Linked DNA regions of Homo sapiens: all the other regions are linked to region 2. The links come from fine-mapping of genetic effects on gene expression. A gene starts in region 2. Each other region holds a variant in brackets. All regions are shown on one strand. Distances are from middle to middle. Region 1 overlaps GPBP1 (GC-rich promoter binding protein 1). Region 2 holds the start of MIER3 (MIER family member 3). Region 3 overlaps SETD9 (SET domain containing 9).

Evidence for each region. PIP is the estimated chance that this variant, and not a neighbour inherited with it, causes the effect.
Region 1: its variant is the best candidate, but not a certain one, in a credible set for the expression of MIER3 in esophagus mucosa (GTEx, PIP 0.52).
Region 3: its variant is the best candidate, but not a certain one, in a credible set for the expression of MIER3 in whole blood (INTERVAL, PIP 0.54).

Annotation. Positions count from the first base shown.
Region 1 is chr5:57,259,871-57,270,618 of GRCh38, reverse strand. GPBP1 (GC-rich promoter binding protein 1) reads right to left here. Exons shown (of 12, transcript NM_022913.4): 11 at 9,337-9,439; 12 at 5,946-8,025. The coding sequence ends at 7,867. Among named protein-coding and RNA genes, the nearest start is that of GPBP1, 91 kb to the right of the region's middle. The variant A/G (reference allele first, on the strand shown) is at 6,408.
Region 2 is chr5:56,947,543-56,958,290 of GRCh38, reverse strand. It overlaps MIER3 (MIER family member 3), which reads left to right and starts at 6,168. Exons shown (of 13, transcript NM_001297599.2): 1 at 6,168-6,197; 2 at 7,639-7,663. The coding sequence starts at 6,189. RefSeq lists silencers at 5,887-6,306, 6,337-6,446, 6,507-6,676 and an enhancer at 7,247-7,336.
Region 3 is chr5:56,915,088-56,925,835 of GRCh38, reverse strand. It overlaps SETD9 (SET domain containing 9), which reads right to left. Exons shown (of 6, transcript NM_153706.4): 6 at 8,488-9,021. The coding sequence ends at 8,934. MIER3 (MIER family member 3) reads left to right here. Exons shown (of 13, transcript NM_001297599.2): 11 at 1,794-1,921; 12 at 2,003-2,145; 13 at 2,251-6,233. The coding sequence ends at 2,708. Among named protein-coding and RNA genes, the nearest start is that of SETD9, 11 kb to the right of the region's middle. The variant C/T (reference allele first, on the strand shown) is at 6,460.

The DNA.
Region 1 (10,748 bases), 310 kb before region 2:
GCAGCAACTTGTTCTTTATTCTTTTCTATGGATTTAGATATCATGTGGTACCTCTGGAGTGGTTTCACTGGCTGAGGACAATTTCCTAATTCCTAGATTTCAGGTCCAGTACGCTGACTTCACATCTTTGCCCCATCACAGAAATCTTTCCTTCATCCCCACCCTAGAATTTGAGTATTGCCCTCTGTGCCTAGTTGTTAGTCTGAAGCATGTGTTACTGATAAGATACTAACTTCATCACCTATGGCTTTCTATCTGCGCTATTATGTCTCACCAGCATCTACTCAACTTTAGTACAAACCCCAAAATTATGGCAACCTGATGCCTTATCACGGCAACTTCAATACCAAACCTTGACCTCTTGTTTCAAAGCTCTTATCCTGTTTTATTATTTCCTGTTGCTGATAAAGTGATGCCTCTAGTTCTCAATTCATGTTCATAACAAAGTGATGAAATGCTCTTCGCCAACGTCTCCACTTTGGAGAAAAATAAGCTATAATTTCCACCAAAGGCAGGCAAGGGTCTTCTGTTAAAATAAATGGTCCTTATTGTTGTTGGCACAATCCAATCGAGGAAAAAAGACAGTTTTTATCCTCATAAATACTCAAAGCAGAGAATGCTGGCAGAGTGACAGAAGAAATTACCTCACTTTTGGAGGAGAAAGGGAAGCAGGTCTATCCTTTGAAAACTATCTCCATGTTTCACAAGTTTTCCCACTTTCTCTGTAAAAGTCTCTATATTGCACTGATAAATTTGTACTTCTTTCCTTGTGATTTAGGACACACTATATTTTATCCTGTGTGGACACATTACAATCATGTTTTACAAACGGGAAACAATTGTCTTAAAAGTTAAGCTTCCTTACATTCAGAATGTCTGTATTAAAAGAAAAAAAAAAGTTAGGCTTTCAAATATTGCCCCAGAACTGGGCAGGACAGGGGGAAGCATTTTGCAAGACTGAAAAATCACACAGGTAATGGTATAAAGATCAAATATGACAACCCAACTTTCACTTTCCTTGAGTTTCCAAAGGCCTAGTTTTTAATGTTTATAATGAGGATCAGCAAACTACTGTCCCTACCCAGCTTGTTTTATTGGAAAAGACACACCTACCTGTTTACTGTCTGCGGCTGCATTGGTACTATTAATTGAGTAATTGGAACAAAAATCACATGGTCCAAAATATTTACCATCTAGCCCTTTACAGAAAAAGTTTGCCAACATTCGGTTTAGAAAATAATCTTCAAAAAAGAAATTTCAGACATCTTAATAGATGGCATGAGTCTCTATGTCTCTATGTGGGGATACAGAATTGCCTAGACTCACTTTCTCAGTAGCCAGGTTCTTCTCATTCTGTCAAATGACTCACTCTAATAGTCAATAAACCAAAATAACTTTTCAAAAGCTAAACAATGTCAGGACATTAAGTCCAAATTTGAGGGAGAAAATATCTCTTCACCTCACCAAGTCAACTTCTCGTAACGCAACTGTACCTGCTTATTACAGTATACAGATTGACATTTCATTGTTTTCCCTTCTGCTAGTTTTTGCTTCTCTCCAGCCATTAAAGAAAATCACATTAGGGTCGGGCGGAGTAGCTCACGTCTGTAATCTTAGCATTTTGGGAGGCTGAGGTGGACAGATCACTTGAGGCCAGGAGTTCGAGACCAGCCTGGCCAACATGGCAATACCCCCATTTCTATTAAAAATACAAAAATTAGCCAGGTGTGGTGGCACATGCCTGTAATCCCAGCTACTCGGGAGGCTGAGGAGTAAGAATCACCTGAACCCGGGAGGCGGAGATTGCAGTGAGCCACGTTCATGCCACTGTGCTCCATCCTGAGCAACAGAGTGAAACTGTCTCAAAAAAAAAAAAAAATTCAAATGGCATTAAGGCTACAACAAAATTATATTCCCTAGTGAGGAAAGGTACATTCTGGCATCTAAGTAAAAATTACATACATAATAATACACAAAAGCTGACACAAACATACAATCTCATTTTCTCAAGATATTAATGTCTACCAGACAACTAGTTTTAGCATATCAAGTGCCCAATTTTAAAAAGGTTAAGTAACTGAAGTAAGGCAAAAGAGTTATATACTCTTGCCAGACACGGTGGCTCATGCCTGTAATCCCAGCATTTTTGGATGCTGAGACAGGAGAATTGCTTGAGCCCAGGACCGTTTGAGACCAGCCTGGGCAATGTAGCAAGACCCTGTCTCTTTAATAAAATTAAAAAGTGAGGGGAAAAAGTTATATACTGTTGTCACAATTCTCCAGCCCATTATCTTTGTTCACCTTTAGCATTCCAGAAAATGAGGGAAAACCTTGAGAGAAATGGAGTATGAGTATCAAGTTAAACTCTTGCCTAATAATGTGCTTAACTACCTTATTTCCACAAAAAGCATAAAGTGATGAGACTAGCAAAGGCAATTCTATTTTGAAAGATTTGAAAGCATGGAAACCCATTCTTGCAATTAGTTCACAGGACTATAATTTACCATTAAAGTTCAATGATTACATTTCAGATCTCTGATAAAACTCATTTTAACAGCTGAATAAAATCAAGCTTAGGTCATAACTGAGCGTAATGCCAAACAAAGCAGACGTAAAACAGTTGTAATTTACTGTGAGAACTCAAACAGATGTTTCACACTATTTACAACCACTTAGAATAGTACCTATTTAACAACAGCTAATTTTTTAAAAATAGGTACTGCCTGCTACTGGGAAAGGTCCAGTTGAATTGTCACTAGTAGCAAATTAGCTAAATTTATGGAACACCTACTGTGAACCAGGATTTACACCAGGTGCTTTTCATTATTGTTTTCATCCTCACAATAACACTATCGAATAGATATTAAGTTGCCTATCTGGATTAAAGTCACAGCTAAAGCTGTGCGCAGCAGCTCACGCCTGTAATCCCAGCACTTTGGGAGGCCAAGGTGGGCGGATCACGTGAGGCCAAGTTTGAGACCAACCTGGCCAACATGGCAAAACCCTGTCTCTACTAAAAGTACAAAACTTAGCTGGGCATGGTGGTCACTCCTATAATCCCAACTACTTGAAAGGCTGAAGCATGAGAATTGCTTGAACCTACAAAGCAGAAGTTGCATTGAGGAGACATCATGCCACTGCACTCTAGCCTGGGTGACAGAGCAAAACTCTGTCTTCAAAAAATAAAAAATAAAAAAAGGCACAAATAAAAAGGGGGAAAAAAAATGTAGTTTCAAACCCAGGTGTGACTACTTCCACCATACTGTATGTTAATACATTATAACTGGTTGCTGGACGCGGTGTCTCATGCCTGTAAATCCCAGCACTATGGGAGGCATAGGCAGGAGGATCACTTGAGGTCAGGAGTTCGAGACCAACCTGTCCAACGTGGCGAAATTCCATCTCTAAAAATATGAAATTTAGCCGGGCATGGTGGTGCGCACCTGTAACCCCAGCTACTTGGGAGGCTGAGACATGAGAATCACTCAAACCCAGGAGACAGAGGTTGCACTGAGCCAAGATCACGCCACTTACACTCCAACCTGGGTGACAGAGTAAGGCTCTGTCTCAAAAAATAAAAAAAAAGAATGGGTTTTGGGGGCAGGATTTTTAAATATTCTAAAGCCCAGGCCACGCCCCAGTCTAATTAAACCACAATCTGGGGTGTTGGTGGGGGATGGTGGACACATTGGGGAAGCTCCCCAATGATACCAATGGTGTAGATAAGTTTGGGCCCCACCACTACACATGCTCTTACATATTGCAAGTTAGGACACTGCTGCATGGAACATGCTTCAGCAGTGTCCTTCAACCAGACCTAATGATATAATACATTGTACCTTCAATCACTATGCCAGAGTAGTTCTACAAAACGAATCCATATGGGTAGGCAGAATGAACTTAAAGTTAACTGTACAACTGAACAAAAATTCACAATTACAAAACCTCTTAATTACAACACATTCTCAAGTCCTAAACTACGAATGTTTCAGGTCCACGTGTCCCATAACTATATATATATAGTTTTATATATATATAGTCTTATATATAGTTTTACATAGTTTTATAGTTTTTATATAGTTATATATGTAGTTATATAGTTATATATATATAGTTATACAGTTATATATATCAAGAGTCTCGCTGTCACCCAGGCTGGAGTGCAGTGGTACAATCATGGCTTATGGCCTCCGCCTCCCAGGTTCAAGCAATTCTCCTGTCTCAGCCTCCCAAGTAGCTGGGATCAGAGGCATGCACCACCACACCCAGCTAATTTTTGTATTTTTAGTACAGACTGGGTCAGATGGGGTTTCACCATGTTGGCCAGGGTGGTCTTGAACTCCTGACCTCAGGTGATCCTCCCGCCTCAGCCTCCCAAAGTGCTGGGATTACAGGCGTGAGCCACCATGCCCAGCCCCATAGTTAAATATTAAAACAATCACAGCTGTCCTCTGAGTCCCATCGTTTTAAGTGCAAGCATTCAGCCCTGCCTAAAGAAAGGAAATATTAAGTAGCAAAACAAAAACCAGAATCTGAAGCATCTCTGCGGCATCTGGAGGCTTTCACGGATTTTTCTATTGCTTGATATGTCCTGTCGTTCCCCTAACAGCCAAATAACTTTTATAACCTCAGGAAACTTAACTATCTAAAAGTTAAAATATCCAACTCTTAGTGATAATCATTTAAAAGCCCTAGTAACACATCCCTTATTGTGTAAGCCAAAATAAAAATCTCACTTTATAGAAATATTTCACAAGTGTGTATCCTTTCTACCCTAGTTATCATTTTTTTTTTATTTTGAGACGTAGTCTCACTCTGTTGCCCAGGCTGGAGCACAATGGCACGATCTCAACTCACTGCAACCTCCGACTCCTGGGTTCAAGCGATTCTCCTGCCTCAATATCCTATGAGTAGCTGGAATTACAGGTGTATGCCCCCACGCCCGGCTAATTTTTGTATTTTTTTTTTTTTAAGTAGAGACAGGGTTTCACCACGTTGGCCCAGGCTGGTCTCTAACTCCTGACCTCAGGTGATCTGCTGACCTTGGCCTCCCAAAGTCCTGGGATTACAGGTATGAGCTACCGCACCCAGTCTACCCTCATCATCTAGATTCAACTTAGTTTGCATGATTATGGAGCATGTATTTAGACTCCAGTATCAGATTAGGGATGATGACGGATGGGGTGTTAAAACAAGTTATTTAACAGATTCCTAAATTTAAAAGGTTTATATAACCACATTCTAACAGTATACATAAACACTAGCAAAAAAGGACAAAGTATTTTGGGGGAACCAGATCCTTTAACATACTGAATTCTGTTAATATAAATCTGATTAAGTCAAGCTGATTTTAGATTAACAATTTCAATAGAAATTATCTGCAGAAATATTCTAATCCTTATACTAAAATCAAGCAAATAGTTTTTGAAATGCTATTTTAAGTCATTACCTTAAGAATTTTGCTCATTAATTACATTTTATACCAAAATAAAATGAGAGGGGGGTGGAGAATTAGTGACAGGGACTTAAAAGGAACCAAGAAATTCGGGGGAATAATAGATTATGTTCACTTAGTTGTAGGTCAAAACACTGTAAACTGTATGTTTTACCTGTGTGTTCAAGTCAATTTATACCTCAATAAAGTGTTAAAAATAAAAAAGCTGCCAAAAAAATGAGTTTGAAACAGCCATATTTGCTTTTCAGACTTCCATGGCCTAGTTCTGAGTTCAGCAATTCCACATTAGATCTATAACTAGTTTCTGTGCTTGTAGGCTCTCTTTAAAACAATATGGTCCAAGCTGTTTTATCAGCTGCCCATTATTTAGACACCAAGCTAAAACTATGTTACACTTTTAACTGTTCTCTTAAATTACATGTATGGCTCCAACCCCTCATAACCAAGCTTATTAATGTCATTAACTTAATGCATAGAATAACCATACCACTGTACTTTACCATATTTATAAGGAGTAAATTACTAAACACATTCCATATCACAATGCATGAAAGCACAATAAACATGAGTTAACTGCTGGTAAATGGGAATTAAGGCAGAAAAAACTGAGTATAAGAAAGATGCCAAAAACCAAAACTACAGAATCTTTTCTGAAAGTAGAAAACACAGTAAGGTGGATCTCAAATGTAAACCACATTCCTCAGGTTCCTTCTAGCTTGTTTTTGGAAATACAGGTTGTATCTGATAAATTTCATTAATCTATTAAGCAAATAGTACAATCTAAGAGTCTCAAAGACATTCAATATGTGTTACCGATAGCTTCGTCAAAGCATGCTTTACATTCTCCTGTGGCTAATTCTAACTACATTTAACTTTAGCTGATTAGATTGAATTGTGACAAATTATATAGTGAAACCTTATTTTAAGTATAAGGTCTATTTAATATTTTATT[A/G]CCATTCTAACTCTTCCTCAAGTTTTGTGGGAGTGTGCTAGTGTGTTGTTTTTAATTTCCCCATCACCATCAGTCTCAGTGGGAACAACAACAAAAAAAAATAACAGTTTCTGGTGAAAACTGGGGAGTCCAGGTAGGGTATTTATGCAGAAATAGCAAAAACACTGCAGCCATCTGAGAAAACACTTTTTAAAAAACAACAAACACTTAAGATTAGATCTGACATAAAACCTCAAGTATTTTTGCTCTAAGATTATGCTCTTTACATAAGTTAGAATATATTTAAACATAAGGGGGAGCTAAAAGCAAATGGGGGTAAACAAACCAGAAAAATCAAAATACAAATATACACAGAGCCAAAATAGTATTTCCGTCAGCAGCAAAACAGAAACAATTCCAAAATTAATGTGCAAATGAAAATAAAGTAGTTAACAGTCATTCATTTAATAAGCTTGTGTATTTGATAATGAAAACGCTTAGCTTTCCTTTTCTGACCTCGGAAAAGTAATCACCATCTTTAGTAAGGTATTACTTTTAAAAGTATGACTTTAACAAGTGAATAAAGCATGTTTAGAGTATGTTTATGTTTAGAAACAATACCTTGAACACTACAGAAAACAACAATATTCTGAAAATCCAGTTTATTTTCCATGTCGTGGACAGATCCAGTCAGTGTGATCAGTTTTTCTGCGTGTGTAATAATTTATCAAAATAAGTTTTCTCACAAGACTCTTTTCCATCAACTCTGAAAACCCTGGTCTGACAACATACCCCAATAAAGCTTTTGAAAATCACCTCTTAAAATTTGGAAGAAAATGTGCCAAGTCTTTTCCTGTAACATTTACTGCACTACAAATGGCTAAAGAGCAATTTATGGTTTAAAAGGTGAATAGTACAACAGGTGAGTTCAGGAAATTGTTTTAGTGCACTTTGCTCCAGTTTTAGCCAACATGCTACATTTTCCTTTTTGGTTTTTGTTTTGTTGTTGTTGTTTTTTGGGGGAAGGAGAGGGAGACCGCACAAAGTGGACTTGAGGATTTCCATTGTACGAAAAAGATATGACTCTGCAAGCAAAACAGTGTAAGCTGCCTTTTTTCTTAAGACCTGGACATTTTAAGACAGAAGCTTTGCAAAACATTACACAATTTTTTATTATTAAATGAGAAAATCTCATTTGTTACATCGTCACATTGCTAGTCAGAGAAATGTTGCAGTGATGAAGAAAGTCAATGTTGGACCAACCCAAGTCCTCATTCCTACAACATTCATTTACAAAGAAATAATGTTCAACACAGCCCAACAAAACATTCTTGGTTTTCTTCATATTGAAGTCCCCCAAAAAATCCTCTTCTAATGGGGTATTTCACTACATAAATTATAGTTCTTCATTTTTACAATTCACCCCAAACTGTATGAGAGATGTATCACACTAAGATTTCTAAAGCTGTTAGGAAATCCTTCACACATCGTCGTCATCTGATGTATCACTGCTACTTGTCTCTGTGTCATCATTCTCAGTTGTGGGTTTGAAAGTGCTGTTCTTCCACGGTCCAAACTTGAAGTCACAGATCAAGCCATTTTTCAAAATACCATTTTTTCTCAGACCATTCTTCTGTAACTAAAATGTTAACAGCAAAATAAATAAATTATCCCTCAAGAGTTACAAACCTACTGTAATAATATAAGCATGAATATAATAAAATTGTATCCTAACCCAAAAACTACACAAGTAATGATATTTCTGAAAAAATTCTGGATCCAGACAAAGTAGATGTGAGTAATAATTGTCACACTGATTAAGGTACTAAACTTTCCCACATTTTTATTGCCTCAAGTGACAACTGTAATAAATACCTTCAGGGACTTACCAGAATATAATCAGAAACCATTAAGCTGTATCTGTTATTTTTATTATTCTGACCTAAATTAATACACCCCCCAATCTGCTTTGTTCATAGTTTGTAAAGTAGAATGAGGTATATAAAGTTACAAAATTGTCTCGTTTAACCGGAGATGAAGATACTAGAAAAAATACAGTTCTCTATTTCTGAAAATGAGAAATCATAACTAAAAGGTTGGTAATAAATAAGAATTGAGTCAAAACATCATCAAAGAAGAAAAAAGATAGTTGGCCCAAATTAGAAACAATTTAAAGACAGAAAATAAGCCCAGTGTAGTGGCACAAGCCAGTAGCCCCAGCTGCTCAGGAAGCTGAGGCAAGAGTATTGCTTGAGCCCAGAAATTTGGGGATGCAGTGAGCTATGACCAGCCACTGCACTCCAGCCTAGATGACAGAGTGAGACCCCAACTCTTTAAATAAACAAATAATCGATTTGAAAAAAAGCATCTCAACTTCCTGATGCTCTAACAAAAATTCCCTAATACTCTTTCAGAAAGGTAACTAGGGAGACATTAAGCAAGATGTTTTAGAATATGAAATACTCTTGTGCAAGAAAAGGATAAAAGATGAAGTTACTTAGGAAGCTACTAACACTCTCTACTTCTTATCACTCTTGCTCCTCCCCCAGAAAAGCCAAAAACAAAAACAAAAAACAAAACAAAAAAGGTCTGGAAAATGACTAATCCATAGACATCACTTACACTAATTCCTAACTATTGCACACCCAATAGTTTAAATAAGTCACTATTGCAGACTTCTATAAAGTCAATTCAACCAGGTGCAGTGGTTCCTGCCTGTAGTCCCAGTTACTCCAGAGGCTAAGGTTGGAGGATCACCTGGCACCCAGGAGTTCTAGAGGCCAGCTGGACACCATAGCAAAAGCCTGTCCTCCCTCTTTTTTTTTTTAAAAGCAATTCTGACCTATCGTGATAAATTCCTAAATCTCCCCCACTCCATGCTTACATATAATTATATTGTTCTAAATAAGGGCAGTTTAAAAGTGAAGTTGTATGATTCAGGTTTTCTTACCTGTTCACTAATAACTTGGAATTCTCTCATTTCATCCTCAGTTAAGGGAGCACATGTTTCATCATTTTCACTGTCTTCCTGCCAGCCCATTTCCTTTAACAATCTGAAAAGGAGAGGAAATTAAGTTTAATGTAAAGCTTACCCTGAGTAGGACAGTATCATTTACATTATGTATAAGAAAACATGATCCACCAGGATCCATTATACAAAGACCCCAAGACACATCAAAAGGATTTTTGAGCTCAGGCTTTGAGTATCTTTCTGAAAATGAATAAACAGGTAAGATTAATAAACTGATATTAAAATTAGAATGAACTCCTTGACTGCTTAATCCTTGGTGTCAAAGGCTCTTCAGGCTGGAAACTTTTAACAGATGTGAAGCAAATCTGCTAAATTCTTATACTAAAAGTAACAGCAATATCACTCCTCTTTTTCTTCAGTACCACCATATTTCTGACTACTCATTAGGTTTTCTACTTGGGCAGTCATGAACACTGCATCAATAGCTACTTCATTTGATCAGGAAACCTCCAAGCTTGTTTCTTATATGGCCACATATCTTGTATTGATATGAAAGGGTTTGTTTTTAAAAAATGAAACCCCTAAGTACTTCTGTTACTCCTACAAGGAGTCTTCAAAAAGTTCATAAAAAATGTGTATCATGGAAAAACTATGCAAGAATTTCAAGAAAAAAATTCTGCACCAAAATAAACTTGTGCTAACTTGTGATAACATGTTTCAACAGAATCTTGTTTAAGGCACCACAAAGGTAAGACATCAGTTTGCGAAAAGCCCCTATCAGATCAACATGAATTCTGCTAAAATCGAAGCAAGAACAAATACCAAATTTATGGTGAAACTTGGGTGGAAGAATAATGAAATCACTGATGCTTTACGAAAAGTTTATGGGGACAATACCCCAAGGAAACAAGAAATTTCAAATAGATAACTCATTTTAAGAAAAGATGAGGTGATTCTGAAGATGAAGCCCTCACAGAAGCAGCAGCAGATCATCCCCATCAATTGACAAGGAAAAAATTAATCTTGTTAGTGCCCTAACTGAAGAGGACTGACGATTAACAACAGAAATAGCCAATACCACAGACAAGACATCTCACTTGGTTCAGCTTACATGATTCTGAATGAAAAATTAAAGTTGAATAATTTCCACTCAATGTGTGCCCACATCATCTGCAGACAAAAATAGAGCTTTCAATGGAAAGTTTAAACAAGTGGGATCAAGATTCTGAAGCATTTCTTCAAAGAACTGCACATGGCTTTACCAGTATGATCCAGAAGACAAATCACAATCAAAGCACTAGCTACCAAGAAGTGGAAGGGATCCACTCAAAGCAAAAGAGGACCAGTCAAGAGCAAAGGTCATGGCAACAGTTGTTTGGAAGGGATAAAGA
Region 2 (10,748 bases):
AAAAAAAAAAATCACAAACTGAGTGACTTAAACAACAGACATTTATTTTCTCATAGTTCTGGAGGCGAGAAGTTCATGATCAAGGTCCGGCAGAGTCAGTTTCTGGTGAGGGTTCTTTTCCTGGCTTGCAGACAGTTGTCTTCTCACCGTGTCCTCACACAGGTTTTCCTTGATGCATGTACGCAGAGAAAGAGAGAGAGAGAGGGAGAATGTGCACCTGTGAGAGAGCAAGCTTTCTAGTGTCCCTTCTTATAAGGACACTAATCCTATTGGACCAAGGTCACCCTTTTCCTGCTCTGCTCTGGCCCCTGGCATCCTGGAAAGCCTGTCTAAACTTCAGAGTTAATGGCAGGTGTTGTTTGCAGTACTCAAGAAGCAGTGGGCAAGGTCAGAGAACATCTGGGAAAGGCAAGTTCAAGGTGCTGCAGGTTTGCACAGTTAAGCCCCCAAAGTACCAGCTACCACTTAGGAGGGAGCTGAGAGCCAGAAAACAAAGACAACCCAGGAAGCAGGGGCCAAGAAAGTGGCCAAAGTTTGAATATAATGAGAGCAGCAAAGTCCAAGAAGGTAGCATGGGGATCTTAATTACTTCCTTAGAGGCCCCATCTCCAAATATAGCCACACTGGGGGTTAGGGCTTCTACATATGAATTTGGGGAGAACATAAATATTCAGTCCGTAACACTTGTTTACCAAAGAAATACCATGCCTTTTATCATATTCTTTGCAATATACATAACATTACTTGTAGCCACATGCTACATTGTATTATAACAAGCTAAGTGATGAACTGCGTATTGATTACTCTTTTTATAACTTATAAAATGAAAAAATTAATTCGGTTAGATCTGACATCATTTTAATCTTGAATTGCATGCTTTTAGTAATCTATCTTATAATACGTTTTGTAATTTATTTCTCAGTGGTTTAAAATATATCTCAAAATAAGAATTAATAGGCTTCTTAGAACTGAAAAATGAAATCAGACTTTTCAAGTCAGACTTGGCAGTTTGGTTTGACAAAAGGGACAGCGTTTGCTTGTTAGGTTATGTGGCAGACATTTTCCACAAGTGAAAGATTTAGGGCTCCAGTCCAAGGTTTTGACAAAAATGTATTTAAAACGTGTGATAAGATATAAACATTTTATTTAACAAAACTGTATTTGTAAGAGAGTCTTAAAATTAACACTGCTCCCATTTTCCTTCCCTTTTCTGAGCCTGTTGAGTTAAATAATTGCCTCTACGTGAAACAGTACAATTAACAGTCATTTGATAAGTCTTGGCAAAGGCTTTTTTGGTAATCTTCATCAAAATTGAAGTGAATTATAGTGATGAGCTATAATAGCTTTGTAAAAAATCCTCTTTCAAGTCAGGTAGCTTTTAACTCTTAGCTTTCAACAAAGTTGAAGGAACACATTTAAAACATCAGCGTATAGATCATTAAAAATAATGTTTGATAGAAGATCATAACATGATGTATTACTAAGGAGATATTACTAAGGAGATCAACAAATTGAGTGATGGTTTAGTAACAAAACCCTTCCATTTCTATCTATTTGTGTATGAATATGGTTTCTCAAACCTTACTTCTGTATAAATAAAGACTAAGAATAAAATTGATGTTAAACTCCCATTCTAGCATTAAGTAATATTCATCCATGGGTACATGAATTAATTTTTAAAGATCCTATTCATCTTATCAATAGATTGATTTCCAATGCAATTTTTGTTCAAAAAGCTTTACTCAAAACTTGTAATACATGTATATTGCTTAGATCAAATGTAAATTAGTAGTAATTGTACTGATAATTCAATCTGGAGGAAAATTATTTCTCTTTACTATCAATTTACAAGGATATTTTTGTTGCAGATAAAGATTGTAGGGTATCAACAAAAGACTTCTAAGCATAAAGCATATTACACTTCTTTGGAGAAAGTAGAATGGGAATATGAGTTCAAGGAGAAAAAGGAATCATGTAAAATTTCATACCATTCAAGAAACATGTTTATGTCTTTTTAAAAGAATAATGAAATATCAAATTGTTATGGTATTTAGATTCCATTGCATACATTTTAAGTGTTATATAATGGCTTTATTTTTAAATGACCATCATTACGAAAGGTAAGTACATCCTTTGCAGCCATTTAAATTTATAATGACAAAATTAGAAGTCAATTGGAATACATAAGAAGGGATAGAGTTATTACAAATTCTTTTGAGGATGTTCCTGCAATTTAAAGTCATTGACTTGGAAGTTCCAATTGGGTATGCTTGCACAGCTATGTCAGCCTGATGCATCCATCTCATTTTAAGAATGGCCCTGACTCACAGGCTGGATATATGTTCATGTATATGGACCAAGTTCCCTTCTTAGAAACGAACTGAAACCTTTTTTGAACTGTGAGAACTCTCTCTTTTTTAAAGTTACCATGCAGATCATCTTTCTTTTGTTAAGAATCTTTTGTTTAGGCAAAACTTACTATGATCAGTTAGCTTTCTCAGAGAGTGGCCATTCATTCCAACAAAAAATATTTAATTGAATATCACGCAGGAGAAGTAGATAAATTTAGAAAAATGCAAGTAGTTTGGCCTGATGCTGGGTCTAACTGTTGGCATTACAGTCTTACAAGCTATGCTGAGAAGTAACGCTAAGATGATGTTCTAGATCAGGTTCGCAAACTGGAAGCTCCCAGGCTAAATATGATTTACTTAACATGATTTATTTGATCTACACTGTGTTTAAATTTTTAAAAAATTAGTTGACAAAATTTTACGACCAGGAGATATAACATAAAAATTCAGTTTTCCAGCTGTTCTTGGAAAATTGAAACTGGAAACATTGGGCCAGTAAGCTGAAACTGACCCAAGTAGTGCATAGTGGTTTCCATCTTTAAGTAGGACACGTCTCCAAATTTGCTATTACTCCTGCGTTTGTCTACACTAGCCTGCTTCACTCATTCATTATGCCTGCCTGACTACTATGGGCATTTGAGATTGAGACATTAACTTTGGTTTATTAGTTTCCCATGGGTTAGATGGAATCTGCAGAAGCCTAAATATCTATGTTGCATTACTGTGGCCCCATTAACTGCTTTCAGTAGGTCATTCATATTGTGCTCTCAACTTTCATAGACAGTTACCAAAAGAATTTGTATATTTCTCCTACATTTGTATGCTTCTCCAATGAGAAGCAAGCAACTGATTACATTCACCTTTTTTGCTTTGGCTGCCAGAAAGCTCTACATTTATGGCTTAACTATTGTATTGTGTTAATACCTCATAACCTGCAGATCCTTGTCCTTACTTTTTCTTTGGTGTTAACCTCCTAGTCTAGTTAGTTTCGTTGGTCCTCATTTTTTTATATATGTTTTTTTATTTTATTGTATGAATTTACTGGAAGCCTCTAAAATTACATGTTTATAAATAAAGCTGTATTGATTTATTTCCTTTCTAAAGATGGTTGGAGGATCTATGACATTTTGGTTCTCCTTAGGAGGTTACTATGGTTTTTAGTTTTCCTTGCTCACATATCCATTTACCACCTATGGAAATTACTTAGATTGTAAGCTTTTGGGGGACAAGGACATTTTTATGGTGGTCCCACAGTGCCCAGCATCTAGCACTTTCTATATAATGCCCTGTATTGCATAGTTACAGGATAATAAAAGTAAAAAGTAATAGTATTTTAATTTAAACTCCTTGGGTCACAAGGATTTTTAATCTGTACTGACTCATGAAAGTCTTGTCAATCAGAAAGAATGAGAGCTCCATCTACATATAGACTTTACACACTTTATCATAAAGGAATGTGTTATGTAAGACTGAGTGATAAACTTTCTCTAGTGATCAGGTGGGGGAAAGTAGCTCTGCTACCTTCAACTGCTAATAAATTTAGCTTCATTTATCTTTGTCTGAATCCTTATTTAATACCATGGACTCAGACTTCCTACACTACGTTCTATAATAGGGAGCATATAACAATCAAAATTACAAATGCCTATACAAAATCTTTACAATTGAATATAAAGAAAGTCTACAGAAACATTACTAGATTCATGAAAGTGAATAAATCTGTGTATATTTCAGTTATGGCAAAACATATAATCTAAGACTACATTTATAGTTTGGATTAGCCAAGTTTGCTGGGAAGAAAATGTTTTTCCCAGTGTAATGTATGAGGCAGGTTGTTGGAGACACTTTCTTCACGTGGCTCAGACTGCGGTCCAGCTGCTCAGGGCACTGTTTCATGGTTCTGTCCACAGCGCGTGCTCACTGCGTCATTTCTAAAGTTATTCACTTGTACTTAATTTCAAGCCATTTTTTTTTACTTTGAAAACTCTGAACGCCTCATTGAGGACAGTACATACAATGTGTGCCAAGGTCTGGTTTCAAAGTTTAGCTGTTTTTGAGTTATTTGACTGGACAAAAGGTCGAAAGATATCTTTCACAGCAGGGAAAGTGTAATTTTCCATGTCTTTATGATGTTTAGAAATAGTTGGAGTGATTTTTCCCTAAAATTTCCATAAGTAAATAACTTTTACCCGTGGCATAAGCTTGATTTTGAGATGCCTTGGCAAAAAATTTGAAAATAACCCTCTCCCTACCTCCAGTCTCCAGCCTCATCCTCAGTATGCACTCCAGCAATAAGGGAATTGGAGGGACCCCAGGTTAAAATCAAGACCTTTCATGTTTGGATTAAAAGTATGACGTATGGAAAGTTTTAGCTTCTAAAAACTTGTCTTTATCATTTAATATTACGTATGTTTTAGAAAAAAGCTGGGAGAAGAGCTCTGGTGTCTGAGATCACTCTCTCCAAATTCCTGTAGGGTCCTGCTATAATTCCTGATGGTATTTGCATCTCACTTATTCATGTACCTTACAGCCGACTTTCTTTTCCACAGATAGAATTGGCCTCCCACTTTAGGACAATGTGTCCTCCAAATTTGCTAGGGCAACTCCATACCTTACTTTAACTTCTTGCAGGACCTAACTCTCCAATCAGTCGTTAGTGTATATTTTTGTGTACTTGGCTCAAAGTCTTTCAGTGTGGATGTGGACCTTCCGGAGAGTAATCTCCTCCAATGAAGAGCAAATGGTCATAAGGAACATGTACGAGCAGGTATTCCTGTTAAGCCTTATGCTCCGTCTTTCACCCATCCACTTGCACAGGGGACTAGTTTCCTTTTATGATCCTACCCAAACGTTTGGCCTTTTTGGAGAAGTGAGGGAAGTGAGGGGTAGAATTTTTGAGACTCAGTTCAGGGCCTTTGATATGCTGTTCCTGTCCTTCAACAGATGTATCAAGTATCTCTGGGTCATCCCCTAAGACACGTTGGTGATGAACAATTCCTAGAACTGGTCTAATTTTTTTTTTTTTTTTTTTGGATAACAGCACAGTTTATATTTTTTGGGCATCTTCTTGAACTGTACAAGTATATTCAGCATCATTTCTCTGCCCTGTCGATCTTTTGTCTTTTCTTCTGTGCTGTCAATAACCTGTTTGGCAAATGTCTACTTCCATTGTCCACTCCGTGAGCAGTGTACACCGGTCTCCATCTCCCATTCCTGCAGGTCCCTTCGTGGAAACGGCAAAGTGCCTGACTGTAGTCCTCTCATTCTGGACTGACTCTGCCATCCACCAGCCTCTTCTCCCATTTCCCAGGGCTTCCTCCCACATCTGTCTATTTCATAGATCGCCTCCTCCTCTTAGGGAAGTTGAGTCTGTCGAGTTCCCCTGCACATCGCCTGCCAGTCCAAGTCTCCTGCCCGCCTCCCGCACGCCCTCCCGCGCCGCGGTGTCTGTGGGTCGGTTCCCAGACGCGCCCGCCGGCTCTTGGGCCTCCACTGGCTGGACGTGGGTCTGTCCCGCGCCCGCGCGTCCGTCCGTCCCCCACTTGCCTCCAATTCGGCAGGAACTTTACACCAGCCAGGAGGAGAAGGACGGTGCGCGCGGGTGCGGGTCTGGCCGGCTGGGGCCGGCGCGGGGGCGGCGAGGGGCGCCGGGCGGCGTCGGCTTGCGAGCGGGCCGGGGGCGTCGCGGGCCGCCCTGCCCTATAAGGGGCCGTGCCGCCTCCGCCGCCGGGCGGGTGCCGGGCGGACCGCGGCGGTGGCGGCGGCGGCTGCGATTGGCTCAGGCGCCCCATCCGGGGACTGGGCTCGGCGCTGCTCGTTCGCCCTAAAGGTACCAATATGGCGGAGGTGAGCAGGGAAACCGGGCAGGAGCAGCCGGGCTGGAGCGGGCGCCCGGCGGCTCCCCGCGACCCCCGAGCCAGCCTGGGGGATCCGGGGCTCTTTCCGCTGCCCCATGAGGGGCGGCGTGGCGACGCGGGGGTCGCGGGGCGGCGACTGGCCGTGGCGGGGCTGGCCGGGGGGCGGGAGCGGGCGCGGGAGCGGTCTCCCTCCGGGACTAGGCCGCGGCGGCTCCGGCCCCGGTCGGGCCGGGCGACCGAGCCGGACGGAGGTGGCGGCCGGCTGCAGTGAGCCCTGCCCCAGGGACGAGGCAGTGCCGTGTCCCCGGTCGCTGACGCGGGCCGCCGGCGCCTCCGCGCCTCTTCCCCGGGCCCGGGTGGGTGGAAACCGGCGGAGCCCCCCCTCCGCGGCCGGATCGCAAAGAGGGGAGCGGGCTGCGCCACTGCCCTGCGGGAGTCGTGCGCTGTGCCCCCGGCCCACCGGGCCCGGGCTGCGGCGCGAAGGAGCCGCACGCTTCACTTTGCTGGGGGCGCGGAGAAGAGCGGGATGCGGGGCCACCGGGCTTCTCAGAAGAGCGGGACTCCCCACCCCGCAGCCCGGGAGGTGCGGGAGCCCCTGGGGTTAAAGGGCAGACCGAGACCCTCGACGCCCTCTCCAGGAGAGCGGCTTGATAGCTCCAGTTTTCTCTGGGCTGGAGGAAGGAAGGCTGGGCGAGCGAAGCTGCCCCGGCCATGTCCCCCGGGACTGGTGAGCTGGGGGGAGGGGGCGGTGTGGCAGGAGCCCCTGGGCTGGAGCTCGCTGGGGCGGGGGGCGCGCTGACGGTCCAGGGAGGGACTGAACACTCTGGAAGGAGCCAGCATCCCTGGAACTGAGAGGAGCTGCATCTCTGGACTCGAGAGAGAGGATGGGGGGCTCGCGCTTTGGTTTGGGGGCGAGTGTCCGATTCGAGCTGGCCTACGCTGCAGGGGAAGAGATCGGCTTCGGAGTTGGGGCTCCCGGGCCCCAGGGGCGAACTAGGTGCTCAGAACGCGAGTTCGTTCCAGAAAAGGGTGTTACGTTTCGAGTTGTTTGGGGCTTCGGAGAGCCGGGTGGGATTTGGAGGACTCCGGAGATGCCAGGGATGGGGGACTGATGGTGCCAGCCGACTGCTCTGGGTTTTGCTTCTCTGCTTGGAAACTTGCTGAGCTCCAAGAAGCGACTTGGAGTTGCCTCTCAGACTCCGGGCTTCGTCCCGGGTCTGTGAGTTTGTACACTTGGGACTCGGGGAGGAAGGCGAGGCAGCCAAGAGGGGGCCCGAAAGGGGCCGGGAGCGATTCGAGTGAAGCTACGTCTTGCACTTTTGGCAGCTGCGGAGGAGCGCTCGACTCCGCCTCCTCTGCGCCCTGTTGCCGGCGCTGCCTCTTTCCCTGGCTGTGCGATCTAACCTCACGTTTTCTTCTCTCTCTCCTAGGCTTCTTTTGGAAGTTCGAGCCCAGGTTTGTCCTATTTTCTTACGTCTTCGGTGGTTCCCAGTGGGTAATGTGGGCTCAAAGGTCTGTTGCTAAAGGATTCCCAATAGAAATGTATCCTGCAGGTTTTTCTTCATTGATTTTTAAGAGTTTCAGTGTGCATTTAGTAAAGTTTGGGGAAGAAACAGTTATACTGTTCTTTGTTTTCTCTTGCATGTTGAAAAAGTAACTGTTACAAAGTTGCTAAGACAAGCGTTCTTTTAAGGAATATGGCTTTAATTATTACATATCTTATTTTTCCTCCGAGCCTGAAACAGTTAATCCCAAATTAACTTGACACCAACTTTAGCAATTTAGATTTTAACTTCGGTTTCTTCTAGAGATTGAGTAATTTGTCAGAACTCTGGGACTACTTCACTAACTGTAACCCCTCATCTCCTCTTACGTTGTTTCTTTTTCATAATTAAATGTCTATGAGTTGTGTTAAAATTGGAAGTTGAGAGGTAAAGCTACCTTAATAAAAAAGACAGAACTTCCAAGTTTGGCACAGAAAAAGGGTGATTTTGACTTCTGAGCTGAGACGATCTTAGGTCATCTAGTACAGTGTTTCTTAACTTTCCTGAGGTCAGAAACCCCTGTCAGGATCTAATGAAAGCAAGGGATGTGTCCCAGAACTCTGCACATATGCATAATTACACACAATCTGGGGTTTGTAGAATCCCTGTAGCAGGTCCATAAGGACCTTTCCTCATGTGCTAATCATGTAAGGTATCTTTGTTTCAGTTTCTCATTTCCTTTCTAGCTTACCTCTTTGCTGTCTTCCCTCTCCTAGTCTACAGGAAAAGCACCTCTGAACTAGTCCAACTCCATTATTTTACAGTTGAGGAGACTTTTAAATAACTTTCGTTAGTGGTGGAGCACAGATGAGCTCCTAAATCTTCCATTACAACTTGTTTCCATAGAGTGAATAGTCAGTTTCCTTACACTATTACTTTTTGTATCTGCTCCACCTTCAGAGCCTCACTTGACTGTCATTTAAGGTATTATAACACCAAGTAGAAGAAATTTGCAGCTATTTTAAAAATAGCTGTCTATATCTTTAAAATTCTAAAAATTTTTGTTAATTTTGAGATGAACTTTTTTGTTATAACTGATTTTAGGAAAATATATACATGATGTCAAACAGCTGGATTAATGGAATTTTTCCATTTGGTATCACTGACTTCTTTTAAGAAGTTGCACTCTAAATAAGCCAAAAGACAGTGTAACCTGTTTTTAATCAATTAGCCTCTTTTTGTTTTTTGTTTGTTTGTTTGAGACGTTATGCAGGCTGGAGTGCAATGGGGCAATCTCACTGTAACCTCCGCCTTTGAGGTTCAAGCTGTTCTCCTGCCTCAGCCTCCCAGGTGGCTGGTACTACAGGGATGCGCCACCACACCTGGCTGATTTTTTTGTATTTTTAGTAGAGATGGGGTTTCACCATGCTGGCTAGGCTGATCTTGAACTCCTGACCTCAAGTGATCCGCCTGCCTCGGCCTCCCAAAGTGCTGGGATTAATTAGCCAGTTTTTTAAAAAGAGAATTTTAGAGTTGGAAGGGACTTTTGAGGTCCTTTCAGTCATCCCCATGTATTTTGCAAATGGAAGACAGGAGCTAGACCTAGAAAGTTTAAATGACTTCCTTTAGGTCCCAAAAAGCCAAGGACAAAGCTGGGAGTAGACCCTCAGGTCCTTCGATTTTTGACCCTTACTGAATACCTTCCATGTTAAAGGGGAGGCCTGTTGTGCCAAGTGATAGAAGAGTAACAGAAGAGCCCAGAGGAGCTCTGCTACCAAAGAGGTGAAAGAGTCAGCATCTATTTCATTTCTGCCTCTTTGGCATACCATGGAACTTGCCAAGAATTCCTCAAAAAAAGAAAATTTGTAATGGTGGATGTGAGCTAATTAATAAATATTCTTATTTCTTTTTTGTTGTTTTTTTGTTTTTTGAGATGGAGTCTTGCTCCATTGCTCAGGCTGGAGTGCAGTGGTGTGATCTTGGCTCACTACAGCCTCGACCTCCCAGGTTCAAGCGATTCTCCTGCCTCAGCCTCCCACGTAGCTGGTGGTATTACAGGTGCCCACCACCATGCCCGGCTAATTTTTTTGTATTGTTAGTAGAGACAGGGTTTCGCTATGTTGACCAGGCTGGTCTGGAACTCCTGACCTCAGGTGATCCCCCCACTTCGGCCTCCCAAAGTGCTGGGATTACAGGCATGAGCCACCACCCCGGCCTATATTTCTTTTTAAATTAAACCACATGTAAATCAACAAGTTTTTAAATGAGCAGATATTTTTCAACATTAAGGAAGATAACATAATGTAAACCTGCCAAAAAATAAAGTCCTGTAGAAATTGTATTTTTAGAACTAATTAGAGTTCTCTGAACCCAGAATCAAAAATAATGAATTATGTGTGTGGTTTTTCCATAGTGAAAAATCTTTGGCCCAGTTCAGTGTTTTGGTAATGATCTCACACTGTCCTGAAATGTTTGAAATTTTAAAATATTCAGTAGCTTGACTAAGAACAGATTAAACTTTTTATGTTGAGTATGCTTCCATCCACTTCTTCCTTCCCCCAACCTCAGTTTCTGATACTTTCCTTCCTTGCTCTGAGGGTTACGGGTCTAATTGAATTGGATACTAGAGTAAAACAAGTGGAGAAAATCCTGTTTTTTTATAAATTTGATTTCATTTCTTTGGGATTATGGATTTTAGTCATTTCTTCTCTTGGTTTTTGGAGTTTCCTATTGACTTCATATTTGCTATTAAAAGATATTATAGTTTTATAAACAAGTATGAATTATCCAAAACAACTTGCAATGGATATATCTTCCAAAACCTTCAGATGTGATTTTCTGTATTCCCTACACATAATCCTAAGAACTTTGTTAGTAATCCAAAGTAAAGCAAAGTCTTACAGTTTAATGCTTGTCTGATTAATGCTAGGGAACTTGAAGTACTGTTAGAGAAATGTAAAGTGATACAATGCTTTTAAAAGCTGAATGGCTGTATAGCTGCTTCACAGAAACTTATATTTGTTTTATAAAGCAGATTTTTGTTGTGTTTTCTGTCT
Region 3 (10,748 bases), 32 kb after region 2:
AGTTGGGGACTGTCAGTACTTTGATTTTATCTTTTCGTAATACTATGTTGGCTATTCTGGGTATTTTGCCTTTCCATATAAAATTAGTTTGTTGATACCCACAAAATAACTTGCTGGGATTTTGATTGGGTTTGTGCTAAATCGGTAGATCAAGCTAGGAAGAACTGACGTCTTAACAATGAAGTGTCTTCTTATCCATGAACATAGAATATTTCTTCGTTAAGTTCTTCTTTGATTTCTTTAATCAGAGTTTGGTAGTTTTTCTCATACAGATTTTGCATATATTTTGTTATATTTATACCCAAGTATTTTAATTTTGGGGTGCTAATGTAAATGGTCTTGTGTTTTAAATTTCAAATTTCAATCGTCATTGCTGTTATATAGGAAAGCAGTTGACTTTTGTGTATTAACCTTGTCTCCTGAAACTTTGCTGTAAGTGCTTATTAGTTACAGGCGATTTTTTGTTGATTCTTTGGAGTTTTCTACGTAGACAGTCATGTCACCTGTAAACAGAGACAGTTTTATTTCTTCCTTCCCAATCTGTATACTTTTTATTTCTTTTTCTTGTCTTACTGCATTAGCTAGACCTTCCAGTATTGATGTTGAAAATTTCACACTTTCTGTATGTTTGAAAATCTAATGTTTCTCAAAGATGAGATAAAGCGTATAATTTAAGACATTTTTAAAGAAGTCTGGATTGTCCTTTTAAGTAAAAAAAACCATCAGTTTTGTAATGACTTATGAAATTTACTCTATCCATTCATTCCGTAAACAGTTATGTCCTTCCACTTCACTTACCAGACATTGTTTTAGGCACTAGAGATACAACAGTGAATAAGACAGAAAAGGTCTGTAGCCCCACGAAGCCTGCATTCTCTGCGAAGACTTATAGTTAATGATGTTTATTGAAAGGTATACTGTATTTCTTGGTTTAAAAAGCTTATTCCCATATTAGTAATCTTATATCACAACTTACTCAGGAGTCAGGTTAGAGATACTGAAACTTCTTTATCGGGTACTGATTAAGCAAGGGAGAAAGCATTTATTGGATAAGGATGAAGAATTTTGTTCATACATCTGAATTCATATCTGTGGCTGTATGTGGTTAGAGGAACCCTGGTTTGGGTGTGGAGCCAAGGTGGTGAGGCTCAAATTTTATTGTTGTTGTTTCCAAAATCTGTTGGATCTAAAAACCAAACATACTGGAGGGAGAAAGCCCTGCCTTTAGCTAGCAAGTCATCTTAAATTCCAGATGCTGTAGACCGTTGGTCCATTTGCCAAGGGTTCTTAATCTCTTTTGGAAAGTGGAACTCAAATCTGATGAGGCTGCATTCCTTCTCTCCAGAAAAATATACCTAAATATAATTTTGTGAATTAATAGATCTCAATGAAATCCATTTATGGACCCCTCAGGGGTTAGTTAATCCAAAGTTAAGAACCCTCACTGTAGTCAAAATCACAGAGCTCAGTAAAGAAAAGTAAAGAATGCTAGTGTTTAAGATTTTCAGTGAAGGTGTAAGATAATTTCTGGATACACACTTGTTTTATAAACTAATACATTCTGATTTTTTTAAAAAAAAAACCTTGGGCTTTCGAAAATGGCCTCATTATTAAATGTAAAGGCATTCCACTAATCAAAGTGTTCAGAACTTTATAATTTATTAAAAGTGTTCAGAACTATATAATGGGAAAATAAGACCCATGGATTGAAGTTGTAGTGTTGTGGAAAAGAAAAGTTGCTTAAAAAAATGGTTGAGTTTGTTGGTTTTTTAAAAATTCAACTTTTTCATTAGGTGAGAACTAGGACAGTTGCTGAGTGTGTAGCATTCTACTATATGTGGAAGAAATCTGAACGTTATGATTACTTTGCTCAACAGACAAGATTTGGGAAAAAAAGATATAACCATCACCCTGGAGTTACGTAAGTACTGTGGCCTTGCCTTCAAAGACTTACTTTTAACTGTAATATATAGTCATAAAATTACTGGGGTGTGTTTTTCAGGGACTATATGGATCGTTTAGTAGATGAAACAGAAGCTTTGGGTGGGACGGTAAATGCTTCAGCCTTAACTTCTAACCGGCCTGAGCCTATTCCTGATCAACAGCTAAACATTCTCAACTCCTTCACTGCCAGTGACTTGACAGGTAAAATGAAGACCTTTCTGCATTTAGTACAGTTTGTTGCAAAATTGTGTCCTCTGTTTGATGTCATAGGACCACTTACTTAAACAATTTTCCATTCCTTTTTAGCTTTGACCAACAGTGTAGCAACCGTCTGCGACCCCACAGATGTGAATTGTTTGGATGATAGCTTTCCTCCACTGGGCAACACACCCCGTGGACAAGTTAATCATGTGCCTGTTGTAACAGAAGAGTTACTCACCCTGCCCAGCAATGGGGAAAGTGATTGTTTTAATTTATTTGAGACTGGATTTTATCACTCGGAGCTAAACCCTATGAACATGTGCAGTGAAGAGTCAGAGAGACCAGCAAAAAGATTGAAAATGGGCATTGCCGTCCCTGAATCCTTTATGAATGAAGTTTCTGTAAATAACCTGGGTGTGGACTTTGAAAATCACACACATCACATCACCAGTGCCAAAATGGCTGTTTCTGTGGCTGACTTTGGCAGTCTCTCTGCCAACGAGACCAATGGTTTCATCAGTGCCCATGCTCTGCATCAGCACGCGGCCCTACACTCTGAGTGACCTGAGTGAGGATCCCGGAACTGCGTGTGCAGCACCAGTAAACTTGAGGGGAGCTATCAGGTTTGCATAGTCTTTCACTGGAAGTTTGAACCTTTCTCACTATGACATCAGTGATGTCAGTATGTATAGAACTATATCTTGATTTATCAAGAGTATTTTCATTTTTCAATCCATAAATGTGGAAATGAACTATGATCAGCAGAGTTGGGAACTAAGATTGAACTCTGTGGTGCAGCTTTAAGCTCTGCTTCTCTCTTCCTCATCTCCCAATACCTCTTCCCCACTCCCTTCTTTTTCTATTCTTTTGTGTTCCCCACTGCCCTCACTCCCAATTTTAAAACCTGTAGACAGAGGCCACCAGCTCAAAACCAGCACAGATGTTCTGAACTGAATGGTGTGGCCTGTTTTTGTGTAAATTCCTTTTGCCGTAATGGATGCAGTGGAATAACAATGTTTACAGGTACCGATCCCGATCCCTGCTCAATGTAGCATTTTTTTGGTTTTATTTTCTTAATAAAAGCAGGGGTAGGTTTCTTTAAACTGCACAAACATGCAAGGATTTTTTAAAAATGGAAACTTCTCTCATGTTATTCAACTAGAGCACTTCAGTTTACAAAACAGCAAGTCCATCTTTATGGAAGCCAGCACAAGGAACTGTGTGCAAATAATGAAGACGCTTGCTTGGATCCTGTTTCAAAATTCTAGACCAGGGCTACCTTACACAGAATTGGTCATGTTACTGCCAGGAGATTTCTGTGTAACTTCATTTATTGGCTACAGTTTTGGCATTTGAAGATGTGGTACTCAGATGGGGTTTTGTCCACCATTGTCAAGATTGTAATCTTAAAAATCATACCAGTCATTGATAATTTAGTTTATCCTGAGGCAGTCGACTTGCAGAGGCACAGTCTACAAAGCCTAGGATGTTGCCACTCAATGGTTTACATTTTGGGACATCTTTTAAGTTGTTTGTAGCACTGCAGTTCAAAGTGTTAATATTTAGAGGGACTTCTAGATTTTATACCTAATGCAGTAGAACCTTGAAGTATATTTAAGCTTTTTTGTTAAGCTTGAACAGTTGGCAAGAATAATGTGAGTTCCTATCTGAAATAGAATGGTACATTACCACTTTTAAGTTTTAAAAATTGATAGATGTTCAGATGTATCTCAAACTCAGTTTTATTTTTATTCCAAATATTGTGAATGAGAAGCCATTGTCCTAAACTTTGGCCATTTTTGTGCTATAAACATGCATTTTTAAGTTATAAGGTGAATCAAACAATATGTAATACAGTATTAGGATGTAATCTTTGCTTTTGTAGTACTGTTAAAATAGAGAATTATGTTGTTTGCACCGTCTTAATTAAAATTCTTGATTTTTACTAGTTGCTTTGCAAAAAACAAATGTTTGGCTGCATTGCTAATATTTGTAAGTATAAGTTGCTTCAAGGTTGTGCTGATGAGTAGATAGGATGTAGTGATCTTAGTAGTGATTGAAAGGGAGGGTATTTATTATACAAACTGTGAACTGCAATGACATCCTTAGTTTTGGATGATGTGTATTCTTGTTTTTCTTTGCAGCATTTTAATGAAGATTGCTTTGAAGTGTTTACGCAGTAGCACATTAGTATAAAATTTAGTTTAGCACAGTGGACAAAAAGTAGTTAAATTAATAACTTAAAATCAGTCTCTAATTTATACATCTGAAGTATAGCATTCCTGTATGCACACAGTAAATAATGGGTAGCCTGGGCTCTGTGTTACTTTCTTGTATTTTTATCCAAGTTGTCAGCTTCTTATTGCTGTGTTGTTGTGCTAAACTTTGAACCTTATTTCTTTTATTAAAAATCAGTACACTTTCTATAATTTAGTAAGATACTGGCCATAATCTTCCATTGTTATAACCTTAATTTTCACTCTGGGTTTACAGTGGCTGGTCTGTATAAATAATTTACACAAAGATGACTGAATGCTAATACCAGTTGCACTTAAATGAACATGCCCATTCTCAGTAGCTGATGCAGTAATATATTCAGTTTATCTATGCATTGCTGGGGTCTTGATATAAGATGGAAACAGTGTTTCTTATCTAAAGTTTTGATTATCAGCAAGTTGAATGGACACTTTAGTTATTTAAATAAAGATTTTTGACCAAAATCCAGAAAATGGTATGAGAGAAAAATAAATTCCAGCTAGTTTAATAGATTTTTAAATGTCAATCTGATTTTAGCCTCTTAGAGAGTGCTAACTAGCTGGTAATGTTTACTTTTAATTCCTTGTTAAAATGAGGCAATAATTTGCAAGATTTTTGTATATAAGTGTAAATTCTTCATATCTTTTTAGATCTAATTCAATATTTTCTGACTACTTCTGCCATGTATAATACCATTTTTGTGCATGCTTGATGTGACATTCATAAATTGTACCACTATGACTTTATCCATGTAAAATAGCTATTTATTGAATTTTCTTTTAAAAGCTGGATTTACTGGGTTTTTTTTTTCTCTCAGTTTAAACATCTTAACAGAGAATTTGTTACTGTTTATTAAAAGAATTGCATTTGGAAGCAAGAAAACAACCGGATTTGCAATCATGTGAAGAAACAATAATGCCTTTATTATCAAGTGTTAAGCACAATTCTTATAACAAACTGTGATAAATTCTTTTTGTTTTTTTTTCCTTTGCCCCATTATTTTCTTATGAACAAACCAAAAATTCATGGTGAGCAGTTGCAGTGTTGGCTGATATATCTTTTATGTACAGGGAATTTGAAAAGGACAGTGGATTCATTTAGAAGTGTAACTGGTGCTGTGATTATAGCAATACATTTGTTAGTTGTACTTCATCTTTTTCATGCTAGCTTTTTAAATGTTTAGTTTTCCTCTTGTCATGGTCAGCTGCTGAATTTACTTGAAGGATGTAGAATACTGTTTAAAAAATACTAAAATTTGTACAATTAGATCAAAGAATTGTGCAATCATTTCCTTTTTAATTTTTAAAATGTTGAGGCTCATAAATATTTGAGAACATCAGATCTAATAGAGCATAGTGATACTATTTAATTTAACCAAAGTCTCTAGTGAATATTTCAACTTTGAATGTAAACTAACAAATAAACCTGACCACCAAGGAGATTGTTTGCCCAGAGTTTCAAAGCACATTGTCTACAAATGGAAATTGAAATAATTTATAAAATATTGACGTTACTATGTTTTTTAAAAAGTTCCTAATTTTTTCACTAAATGGAGGAAACTATTAGTTTTATTGTTAAATATGGTAGATATTAATATTCCTCTTAGATGACCAGTGATTCCAATTGTCCCAGTTTGAAATAAGTACCCTGTGAGTATGAGATAAATTAGTGACAATCAGAACAAGTTTCAGTATCAGATGTTCAAGAGGAAGTTGCTATTGCATTGATTTTAATATTTGTACATAAACACTGATTTTTTTGAGCATTATTTTGTATTTGTTGTACTTTAATACCTGGTGTACAGTTCCAGAAATAAAAATCTGGGAATCTTTTTTTCTTGGTTTGTGTGAATATTTGCCAAAAATACAGATATTTTATTTAATGAATCTTAAGCTACAGCAAATAGATAGATATTATACCACTGTTAAATTGGTTTTAGATGCAGTAAATAAGATATATGATAGATAGTGAAGTTGGTAGATTAAATATTTTCCTTAAATCCTCTATAATTTCCATCTATAATAAAAGTCCCCCTGTAATCCCAACACTTTGAGAGGC[C/T]GAGGCGGGCAGATCATGAGGTCAGGAGTTCAAGACCAGCCTGACCAACATAGTGAAACCCCGTCTCTACTAAAAATACAAAAATCAGCCGAGCGAGGTGGCGCATGCCTGTAACCCCAGCTACTCAGGAGGCTGAGGCAGGAAAATTGCTTGAACCCTGGGGGTGGTGGTTGCAGTGAGCTGAGATCCTGCCATTGCACTCCAGCCTGGACAACAGACTGAGACTCCATCTCAAAAAAAAAAAAAAAAAGAAGTCCCAAAGTAAGGATTATACTTTTAGTTTAATTCAGGAAACATTTATTATGTTTCAAACGCTGTTCTAGGTAACTGTCTTTTATGAAGACAGACAGATCTGAAATTTGGTCAAATATTATTATTATTTGACAGACTACATTTATGGTCAACTAGTCTTCCTTATCCATACGATTCATAGTTTGACCGTAGTCATATCTATCTTTCCTAAACATCTTTTTAAGCTAAAGCTCCTATCTTGCCATTATTTCACAAGTTTGTCCCCATATTTCATTTCCTCTGACCAGAGCTTTATGTAGTTCCATTTTTAAGATGCAGTGATCAGCTTGCCCATAATATCCAAAGTTTGTACAAGGCCAAGAAGGGGATAAAAGGAAAGCAAAAATCTTGACTCCTCTGCTTTGGTTACTTGACTAAAACCACATCCCTTCCTTGTCAGACACGAAAGGACCTTAGCACATAGGGCTCTGTGGTGGACACATGCACAGAAGTGCCTTCAGAGCAGGGACAAGCACACATATTCCGAATACAGCAAGAATGCAACAATGTGCCATGTGAGAGCTCAGAGTATTTTCAGGCTTTAGGAGACGGAAAAGCCTGTGGAAGCAGGATAATCTAGTACATCTGTTACTAGAAGTCATTTTGGCCATAATTTCCATCTATGGTACGCTTTTTGAGCTTGCTGGTGGTAAGTGCTAAAGAGAATGAGGAATATGTCAGGGTTGGGAGCAGTGAGGGATTGTAAATTTCAGTGGGGTGATGAGGCAACGCTCCTCACTGAGGTGACAGGAAGGGAGAGAACAAGCTATGTGGCTGTCTGGGGGAAGATGTTTACAGGCAGAGAGAACTAAGTGCAAAAGTCCTTGGTTGGGAATGTGCCTGGCAGGTTTGGGGAGTGGCCAGGAGGCAGGTGTGGGTTGGGATGGAGTGAGCAAGGGGAGAAAGGAGAGGAGCTCTTGAGGTCATGAGCAGGTTATGCATGTGAAGGACTTCAGCATTTACTCCATGATAGGGAGAGGGTTTTGAGCAGACGTATGTCAATACCTGACTTTCATTTAAAAGAATCACACTTGGTGATATGTTCTGTAAGGGGGACAGGAGTGGAAACAAGGAAGGCAATTGAGAGGCTACTGAAATTGCAATAAACTAGGTGAGTAAAGCTGGTGGTAAGGAAGTGAAGGTAATCAGAATCTGGTCATATAGGTTCCATGAATTTTTGAGGGATCCAGTAAAGAACACCCTCCTTCCTATCCAAGTTTGGAACTGAGAGAGCTGGAGTCAGGTCGATGGAGGTCAAAGTAACTATTGCTAATAAAACGGGAAGGTAGCTTCAGGGCTGCAGCCAGGTTGGCCTGCCAATATATTACACCTCTGGACTCACTCTGTCACTGGCTGGGCTGGCTACAGGCTATTCTCTGCACAAGGCAGAGAACTGCCAGGACACATTCTTTCTGCTGGCAGCCAGAGTCCACAGGGAAGGAACTAGAAGGGTATATAGGACATGGGTGCCTAGTTATTCTCCAAACATAATCAGGGAGTCAATCTCCCTCCAGTGGGTGGAGAGAGAGGCTAGGAACATTAACCAGTGGAAGCCCTCCACATGAAGACATGAGACACGGGGAATAAGTGTTCCTCCCACCAACACTATCTTGCACTTTTTTTCCACCTTTTCTTTGGTGTGAAAATGTTCAAAGAGTAAAGAAAATAGTAATAATGACCTCACATTTTCCCCTCAGCCAGCTAGAGCAATCTTTACATTATACATAGACACACCAATTTACTCATGGCAACACAATAGGTATTTTTTACTCAATTCTGTAAAAATAAAGTTTTTACAGAAGTTTGTACACATCAGCAGTACTACAAGAACTGCTGATGCCTGGCTACAATTTTATAAACCACCACAGAGCTTACAAAATAAACAAAAGAAAAATTGAAATTATAAGTTCAAAGAGTAGGTTTTAATTTAATAAGCTATTGTGTATTTAGGTGAAAACCAATTAAACTTGGAATTGCATTACAAATTTGAAATTGTAATGAAGCAAGTAGCTTTTATCATGAAATTGGAACATAAATATAATATCAACAAAAACATAAGAAATTCCTATTCCAATTAAGTCTCAAAATATTTGTTTTACAGGTAGAACTCAGAGAAGTGATTAACAAAAAACACTTAGAATTAATAGCTGAGTAGAAAACCTAATAATTTCTGATTCACAGAGTTAGCTGACAATTGTGTAGTAGTTTGAAAAAAGCTCTTCTCCTTGATTGATGTCCCTAAGTGCGACAAGAACAACACATCGAAGTGGGCTGAAAACAAAAAGATATACAAAAGGTAGAGCATTAACAAATATAAGCTCATATTTTTAATATAACCAAGATGGCTTTTATAGAGGTAACTTTACTCAGGTTCCTTCCATTTTAGTTTATGCATTTGATTTCCATGAGGAAATAGTTCTTATTCCTGATGCAGGTATTCTAAAGAGTATATCTATATCATTTAAAAAATCACAAATCAATGTTTATACAACTGACTACTTCTTCTGAAAACATTGTTTCTAAGTTTAGGCCCCCAAAACTAGTATCACAAAAAGGATTTTAAAATGACATTATAGTTTTTCTTGCATTCATTTGTATCTTATATCCTGAAAAATGAAAACATTACTTAAAATTAGTTGGAGTTTTAAAAAAATGCTTTTTTCTGGACATCATAAAATATTGTTTGTTTTTTTTGAGATGGAATCTCACTCTGTCACCCAGGCTGGTGTGCAGTGGTGTGACCTTGGCTCACTGCAACCTCTGCCTCCCGGGTTCAAGCGATTCTCCTGCCTCAGCCTCCTGAGTAGCTGGGATTACAGGTGCGTGCCACCACGCCTGACTAATTTTTGTATTTTTAGTAGAGATGAGGTTTCACCATGTTGGTCAGGCTGTTCTCAAACTCCTGACCTTGTGATCCGCCCGCCTCGGCCTCCCAAAGTGCTGGGATTACAGGCATGAGCCACCGCACCCAGCCTAGATATTGTTACATATATACATTCAAAGTTCTAATAACATCATGCCCCGGAGTATATGGCTAAGAAAAGCTAATAGTTAAACACACAAACATACACATGCAGAGAAGCAAAAGTTATCAAGTTTTTGGTTTTTGTTTTTTTCCTGTTTTGGGACAGGATCTGGCTCTGTCACCCAGGCTGCAGTGCAGTGGTGCCATCTCAGCTCAATGCAACATACACCTCCCAAGTCAAGGATCCTCCCACCTCAGCTTCCCAAGTAGCTGGGACTACAGGTACACACCACCACACCCAGCTAATTTTTGTATTTTTTGTAGAGAAGGGGTTTTGTCATGTTGTCTGGGCTGGTTTCGAATTCCTGTGCTCAAGCAATCCACCCACCTTGGCCTCCCAAAGTGCTGAGATTACAGGCTTGAGGTACCGTGTCTGGCCTCAAGTTTTAAGTATAAATAATAGTTCATGTTTTAAATGTCATTCATCTTAGAAGGACAATTTAATAGGTCCTATATAAAATAAAGTTTGCTAGCAACTCAACAAAATAATACAAAGATTGTATCTTCCTACAGCACTGTTAAGAAAGAACTCTTAGCTCTCCAGAATTACCTATATTTTAAAATTGTTATTTGAATATTCTCAGTAGACTTTCCACTGAATGAACAGGAAATAAATGCTATGTTAAAATATGTGTCTTCTGAATACAGTCCTTTTTTATTTAGTTTCATTATTAAGAACCTAATAGTGAAATTGGCAAAGGAATCATAGTGTAATTTGGCCTCTTTCTTCAATTGGATGCTTTCTTATAAGGTAGAGAACATGATATTATAAATGATTAAAGTAAAGATATATTTGAAGATTTTGTAGGTAGGAAAAACAACAGAATTATTTGAAAAAACTTTAAGGTGGATACTTATGAAGTATTGCCATAGAATAAAAATGGGTAAAAATAAACAGAATGAGCTAGTTTAAAGGAAAATTTTAAATTTCAAATAAGCCTACATTAACACGTTAAGGTGTGAACATAAAAAT